Homo sapiens: one gene and its partner. The protein of the gene in region 2 purifies or fractionates together with the protein of the main gene of each other region. This does not show direct contact. Each region holds a gene or a part of one and is shown on either strand. Other genes may lie near its edges.

What was found.
Region 1: the proteins of RAB25 (region 2) and D2HGDH purify together in Homo sapiens (co-immunoprecipitation; one large-scale study listed by IntAct). This does not show direct contact.

What each region holds. Positions count from the first base shown.
Region 1 is NC_000002.12:241,732,928-241,737,031, reverse strand, and holds the start of D2HGDH (D-2-hydroxyglutarate dehydrogenase, mitochondrial isoform 1 precursor), read right to left. Parts: upstream 2,403-4,104; 5' UTR 2,337-2,402; intron 1,900-2,336; 5' UTR 1,808-1,899; coding exon 1,516-1,807; intron 1-1,515.
Region 2 is NC_000001.11:156,067,582-156,071,004, reverse strand, and holds the end of RAB25 (ras-related protein Rab-25 precursor), read right to left. Parts: intron 2,736-3,423; coding exon 2,542-2,735; intron 1,335-2,541; coding exon 1,254-1,334; intron 846-1,253; coding exon 718-845; 3' UTR 501-717; downstream 1-500. UniProt on the Homo sapiens protein: The small GTPases Rab are key regulators of intracellular membrane trafficking, from the formation of transport vesicles to their fusion with membranes.

The DNA of each region.
Region 1 (4,104 bases), on a different chromosome or scaffold from region 2:
ACGCCACTGCACTCCAGCCTGGGCAACAGAGCGAGACTCCGTCTCAAAAAAACAAAAAGAAAAAACGGTCCAGCTAAGTGCAGTGGCTCATGCCTGTCATCTCAGCACTTTGGGAGGCCAATGTGAGTGGATCACCCGAAGTCAGGAGTTCGAGACCAGCGTGGTCAACATGGTGAAACCCCGTCTCTACTAAAAATACAAAAATTAGCCGGGCATGGTGGCGGGCACCTGTAATCCCAGTTACTTGGGAGGCTGAATTGCTTACACCCAGGAGGGGAAGGTCGCAGTGAGCCAAGATTGCACCATTGCACTCCAGCCTGGGCAAAAAGAGTGAGACTTCATCTCCAAAAAAAAAAAAAACGGATAAACGGTCTTTGCAGATGTAATTAAGTTGACAGTACTGAGATACGATCATCCTGGATTAGGGTGGGCCCTCAATCCAATGAGAAGTGTCTTTATAAGACAACTGGAGAAGAGTCACAGAGAAGAAAAACCTGTATGAAAAACAGAGGCAGAGACTGGAGTAATTTGGTACCTGGGGCCACCAGGAGCTAGAGCTACAAGAGGCAGGAAGGAGCCTCCTCTGGAGGCTTTGGAGGGAGCGCAGCCCTGTGATACCCTGATTTCACACTTTTGGCCTCCAGAGCTTAGAGAACAAACTTGTGGGGTTTGGTGGGGAGGGGAATTCTGTTTTGTTTTAGAGATGTAGTCTTGCTCTGTTGCCCAGGCTGGAATGCAGTGGTGAGATCATAGTCCACTAAAACTGGAACTCCTGGGCTGGAGTAACTTTTTTACTTTTTGTTTTTTCAATCCTGGGCCGGCTACTTTTATTTATTTATTTTTATTTTTAGAGGTGAGTGGGGCGGGGGTTCTGGCTATGTTGCCCAGGCTGGTCTTGAACTCCTGGCTTCAGCCTCCAGGGCAGCTGAGATTACAGGCAGAGCCACTGCGCCAGGCAAACTTGGGTTGTTGGCAGGGCGGGGTGGCTCACGCCTGTAATCCCAGCAATTTGGGAAGCCGAGGCGGACGGATCACGAGGTCAAGAGATCGAGACCATCCTGGCCAACATGGTGAAACCCTGTCTCTACTAAAAATACAAAAATTAGCGGAACGTGGTGGCGGGCGCCTGTAGTCGCAGCTACTAGGGAGGCTGAGGCAGGCAAATCGCTTGAACCCGGGAGGCAGAGGTGGCAGTGAGCCGACGTCGCGCCACTGCACTCCGGCCTGGCGACAGAGTGAAACTCCGTGACTGCACTCCAGCCTGGCGACAGAGTGAGACTCCGTCTTAAAAAAAAGAAAAAACAAAACAACAACAACAACAAAACTTGGGTTGTTCTAAGCGACTCGTTCGTGGTCATTCATTCCAGCAGCCTGTGGCGGTGCACACGCCCCTCTCAGCGCAGCCAGGGGCTGGCACCCCCATCCAGGTTGTTCTCAGCCCGCTTTGAAGCCTCCACGGGAAGGCGCAGCGGAGCAGGGACGCGGAAACGCCGCAGCTTCCCAAGCCTCACCCACCTCGCAGCGTCCGCAACCAGTCCACGTTGGGAGCCTGCAGCGCTTCCGGGTCCGTGACGACCCCGCCGGGCACGATGCGCTCAAAGGCGGCCAGGTCCTGCTTAGACACCGTGGAGAACGGCAAGCGCCGCACGGGGTAGCGCTCCCGGGTCAGCGGCACCTCGGGGGTCCCCGGGGCGGAGCAGCAGCCTCTGCGGGCCAGGGGGCCAACCGGCCGACCCCAAGAACCCGCGGCTCCCGGAGCACCCCGCAACAGCCACGCGGGCCACGCCAGAGGCCGACGGGGCAGCATCGCCGCCGGGACGGAGACCTCGGGCTCCTCCTTGGTGGGGGGCCGGTACTCAGGGCCCGGAGGGGAAGGGCAGGGAGCCGCTGGCTGCGCGCCTGGAAGTGGCCAAGGGTAATTTCATGTTTTATGCACGTTGTACAAATTGAAACACGCTTGCAGAAGCAGGGAGGGGGCAGGAGGGCAGCGAAGGGAAGGCTCCGAGCACCCGGGCCCTCCCCCTGCCCGGGCCGCAACCCCGCGAGCGCGCGAAGCCCCACGCAGCAGGCCTGGACTTAGCGACGCGCAGGCTCGGGGCGGCCTCGCCGGGACCTTGCCCAGGACCCCGTTCCTCCGAGCTCGCCCCCCGAGGGGATCCCGCGGACGCGCGCGCGTGTTCCACGCGGTCACGTGACGAGCTGCAGCGCCGTCCCCCTCCCCCCACAGGCACCGACTGGCTGACGGCGCCCGAGATCGCGCCCCGCCACCCCGACCCGCGGCTGAACCGCAGACCGGGACCCTCAGCCCAGCGCTCCGCGCGGCCGCGCGCACGCACCCACGATCACGTCCCGAGCTCCAACCCGCAGCGCCCGCCGCAGGCCCAGAGCCGCCGAGCCGGAGTGGGCGGGGCGACGCCGCGCCTGCGCATTGACGGCTCCGCCCAGCGGCCGAAGCCCCGCCCCGCGCGCCTAACGGGCCCCGCCCCGCCTGCCCTCCAGGCCCAGCCCTGCGCGCCTACAGTCCCCGCCCCGCCGTCCAAGCCCCGCCCCGACTGGCACCGGAGGCTCGACGGCCACCGCCTCGTCCTGCGTTTCCTGAGGGCCTCCGGCGCGCCGGCTGTCGGGCGCATCCCTCCAGGTAGAGAAGGGACTAGGCTGAGCGCAGCCCAAGACGCCCAAGCAGCAGCTGGAGGGTTCTCCAGAACGAGGCCCGGGACGTGGGCTCGGCCGAGGGACCTGGGGGCCGGCCCGCTCCTCCGAGGCCGAGCCCAGGGGGCGCCCCTTTCCCCAGCGGCCTCCCCAGCTCCTGCACGGACCACCCCTCCTGGGTCCCCAGCCTTAGCTTAGGGGGCAGCTGCCTCCTGCAGGTGTTTTCTTGCCTCCCTGTCCCTTCTGCCTGTTCAGCCCTCCGTGCCCTCAAACCCTTTGCACACCTGGGGAGCTCCTGCCCTCCTGACGCAGTAACTGCTGTCCCGAGGAGCCTCCCGGCCTGGGATCCCCTGCCTGAGGCATCGCCAGCACTTGTTTTGTGTTTTTTTGAGACAGGGTCTAGCTCTGTTGCCCAGGCTGGAGTTCTGGGGTTGATCTCAGCTCACTGCAACCTCTGCCTCCCGAGCTCAAACCATCCTCCCACCTCGGCCACCCAAGTAGCTGGGACTACGGGCGTGCACCACCACACCCGGCTAATTTTTTGTTGTTGTTGTATTTTTGTAGAGATGAGGTCTCATGTGCTGCCCAGGCTGGTCTCGAACTCCTGGACTCAAGCGATCCGCCCGCGTCGGCCTCCCAAAGCACTTGTTACTTCAGCTCACCCAATTCCATAGAACCCTAGCGGGTGCAGAGGATGCCAATCTCTGAGCAGATGAGGGCAGAGAGCAGGAGACCACACTTGGCCCGAGGCAGGACTGCGGAGCTGTGCAAGAGGTGGAGGCTACGCCCGTGACAGCAGATGGGTCCTGGTAGTCACACAGAAAACCGGCGAGCTGGATTTGTCCTGGTGATGAGGCTCTGGAGCAGCAGTTGCAAGGAGTCATTCCTGTCCTCCTTAACCACATCCCCAGAGGCCACTCACCTTCTTCCCAGGTGAATCATTCATACAACCCTGGAAAGGAGACATCCACCTGGCCCTTCCTACCTGGCTGGCCCTTGCTCTGCAGATGAGTGTGGGAGTTTGCCCATTGTCAAGGGTAACTGTTGCAATTACACATTCAGGAACTGGAAAGACGACCACAGATGAGGTCTGTGGACCCCCTTACCACCTGACCTCCACACGCCCTCCCTTTGACTAGCAGGCCAGTGGCATCTTGGACCCCTGGGATTAGGAATGATTCAAAACCCATAAAGATTACCACCCATACCATCCCCTAAAATAACTGATTTTTCTGACCAGGCACGGTGGCTCACGCCCATAATACCAGCACTTTGGGAGGCTGAGGCAGGTGGATCACCTGAGGTCAGGAGTTCGATACCAACTGTGGGCGGCAAGCCACCCAGGTGCCGAGGCAAGAGACCGAAGACACGAGCTGTTCCAGTATAATAAAATAAGAATAGTTATACCAGATATAGATCTTAGATATGATTATATATGAATATCATTAATCATTA
Region 2 (3,423 bases):
GACTCCATCTCAAAAAAAAAAAAGACTGGATGGAGGACTTGGACCTTGCACCTCTCAGGCTTAAAAACCCCTTCCCCAGTACACACCTACAGGACTGGCCCCCACTCCCTCTTCTCCCCTTGTATCTCCCGCTGCCTCCTCCCCTTGCCCCTGGCATTGGAGTGACCTCAGTTGTTGGCACCAGGGCCCTCAGCACCAGATGGTGCCCGCCGATGGTTTCCTTTGTCTCGCCTTCCAGATATACCCCCTCCCCTCCATGCTCTCCTCCCTCCCCCACCTGCCCTGGGGGTTGGCAGAGGGAAGGGCAGGCACCTCCTATCCCCTTGGCACTGTCCCCAGACCACAGAACTCCAGAGGCAGCTGGCCCTGAGGGGCAGTAGGTATGGTGGGGAGGACAGAGGAAGGGGATTAGGGACTCAGAGGAGGGGCCAAAGTTGAAGGGGAGGCACAGACAAGGAGAAGAGGGAGGAACAGACGGGAGGCAGTGGAATGACCAGGCATTGATATAAAACAGCTTTATTTGAGGGTCCTAGTCTGTGAGGGGTGGACAGATAAAAGAGGTATTTGTGATAGGGCATGAAGACCTTAAGACCCTGAGGGTGCTGTGAACAGGGAACAGTCTGATATCTGGAACCAAAGGGCAAGGAAAGGTCCTGGGGCTGAAGTGGGGACAAGGGGCACCAAAAAGCCAGTGGGGGCAGGTGGTGCTGGCCAAGGTCAGAGGCTGATGCAACAGGCCCTCTTCTCCCCAGGGCCAGGCTCCTGTCCAGCCTGGGCACTGCCCAGAGTGATGGCATTGGTCCGGATGCTGTTCTGTCTCTGCTTGGACACCTTCGCAAAGATTTCTGGGAGGGCAGAGGGCAGTGATCAGGCCAGAAGATTTAGAGCCCATGCTCCCTTCTCCCCAACCCCCCCATACATACTGCATGCCCCTTCTGAGCATGGGGGGTGGCCACACTTGCAGGAGGTTTTGCAGGAAGGAAATGAAGTGTGGACATAGGGGTCCCTTCTACTTACTTGGGTGGAGAAGGAACCAAGAGTCAGCCCCATGGGGAGTGTGGCCTGTTCCCTCCCTGAGCTCCAGACTGAGTGGGAGGCACTGGGGAGGGACTGAGGGGGACAGGCAGTGGTGCCAGGACCCACAGAGGAGCTGAGAAATTAGCTGGGGTGAGGGCTGAGTGTCTGCATTCCTACTGCTGCCTGTAGAAGCCACGGGGATGGAATAGGGGTGCAGAATAAAGGTAGGCTCTAACCTTTCAGGACAGTCTCAAAGGCTAGCTCAACATTGGTAGAGTCCAGGGCTGAGGTCTCCAGGAAGAGCAGTCCATTGTTTTCTGCCAGGAAGGGAAACACACCATTAATTGTGGGAGTCAAAGGCAATAATAATAATAATATTAATGTTTGCTATATACATTTGCCATGTGCTAAACTCTTGGCATGTAGCAGATCATTTAATCCTTAAAACAACTTACAAGGTAGGTTCATTTAGAAAACTGAATCCAGAAACACAAAGAAAACAAATAAGGGGCTGGGTGCGGTGGCTCACGCCTGTAATCCCAGCACTTTGGGAGGCTGAGGTGGGTGGATCACGAGGTCAGGAGTTCAAGACCGGCTTGGCCAACATGGTGAAACCCCGTCTCCACTAAAAATACAAAAATTAGCCAGGCATGGTGGCGGGCACCTGTAATCCCAGCTACTCGGGAGGCTGAGGCAGAGAATTGCTTGAACCCAGGAGGTGGAGGTTGCAGTGAGCCAAGATCGTGCCACTGCACCCCAGCCTGGGTGACGGAGCGAGACTCCTCTCAAAAAAAGAAAAAGAAAAAGAATAAGGAAATTGCTCCATGTCCCACATTTAGTAACTGGCCAAGAGCAGATGGGAGACTGGGCCATGGGACTCCAGAACACCCTTAACCACCATATTGTGCTGCCTCTAAACTCAGAAAACTCCTGGGAAGCCTATCCTCTCCATAGGATCTTTGAGCATTACAGGGTGGGGCTGCCTTAAAATTAACTACGGGCCGGGCACAGTGGCTCACACCTATAATCCCAGAACTTTGGGAGGCCGAGGCAGCTGGATCACCTGAGGTCAGGGGTTCGAGACCAGCCTGGTCAACACGATGAAACCCCATCTCTACTAAAAATACAAAAATTAGCCAGGCATGGTGGCGCACACCTGTAGTCTTAGCTACTCAGGAGGCTGAGGCATGAGAATTGCTTGAACCCAAGAGGTGGAAGTTGCAGCGAGCCGAGATCGCACCACTGCACTCTAGCCTAGGCAACAGATTGAGACCCGGTCTCAAAAAAAAAAAAAAAAAAAAAATCAATAAAGACAATCTCAGGGCAAGTGGTGGGACATCATGGGAGACACAGGGTCCCAAAGGGGAAGTGCTGGGAAATCCTGAGGAAGAGGGGATGGGGTAGAGGACTGTATGGAGGAAGGCCAGGCTAGGGGCTCTATGGGTGGGGGCAGGGGCTGGGAGACTGCAAGGGAAAGGTGGGCTAAGCTTGGAGGAGTCAGCCTGGGTAGTGGCAGGCTCTCACCAGCGAACATTCGGGCCTCCTCAGTGGGCACTTCCCGGGCCTGGCTGAGGTCACTTTTGTTACCCACGAGCATGACGACGATCGTGGCTTCAGCATGGTCATAGAGCTCCTTCAGCCATCGCTCCACCACAGCATAGGTCTGGTGCTTGGTTAGGTCAAACACCAGGAGGGCCCCCACTGCACCACGATAGTACCTGGGTGGGAATGAGAAGGATGGACAGAGATACGATCAGAGGCATTGGACCCAGCATCAGAGCAGAGCCGTCAAGCTGGAACACCCGGGATCAGAGTACTAGAGATCAGGAAATACAGAAACTTGCGGCCAGGGGCCCAGAACCCAACAGAGCAGCCCAAGGCTCCTCTGCCTTCCAGGGACACTAGTCTTGGAGCCTGTAAAGTTTCACCTCCCTCGGCCAGGCGCGGTGGCTCACGCCTGTAATCCCAGCACTTTGGGAGGCCAAGGCGGGTGGATCACCTGAGGTGAGGAGTTCAAGACTAGCCTAACCAATATGGAGAAACCCCATCTCTACTAAAAATACAAAAATTAGCCGGGCATGATGGCGCATGCTTGTAATCCCAGCTACTCGGAAGGCTGAGGCAGGAGAATTGCTTGAACTCGGGAAGCGGAAGTTGCAGTGATCTGAGATCGCTCCATTGCACTCCAGCCTCGGCAACAAGAGTGAAAATTTGTCTCAACTAACTAACTAAATAAATAAAGTTTCACCTCCCTGCTCTAAAATCTCTATTGGCTTCCTCACAGCCAGCCCCTCTACTTTCTCAGGTTCTCGTCCTGATTTTAGCCCCTACTCTCCACCAGTGCACATCTGGGCTTTAGCCAACTCTGCCACCTTCAAGATCTTCCTCACATGGCTCCTTAACAGT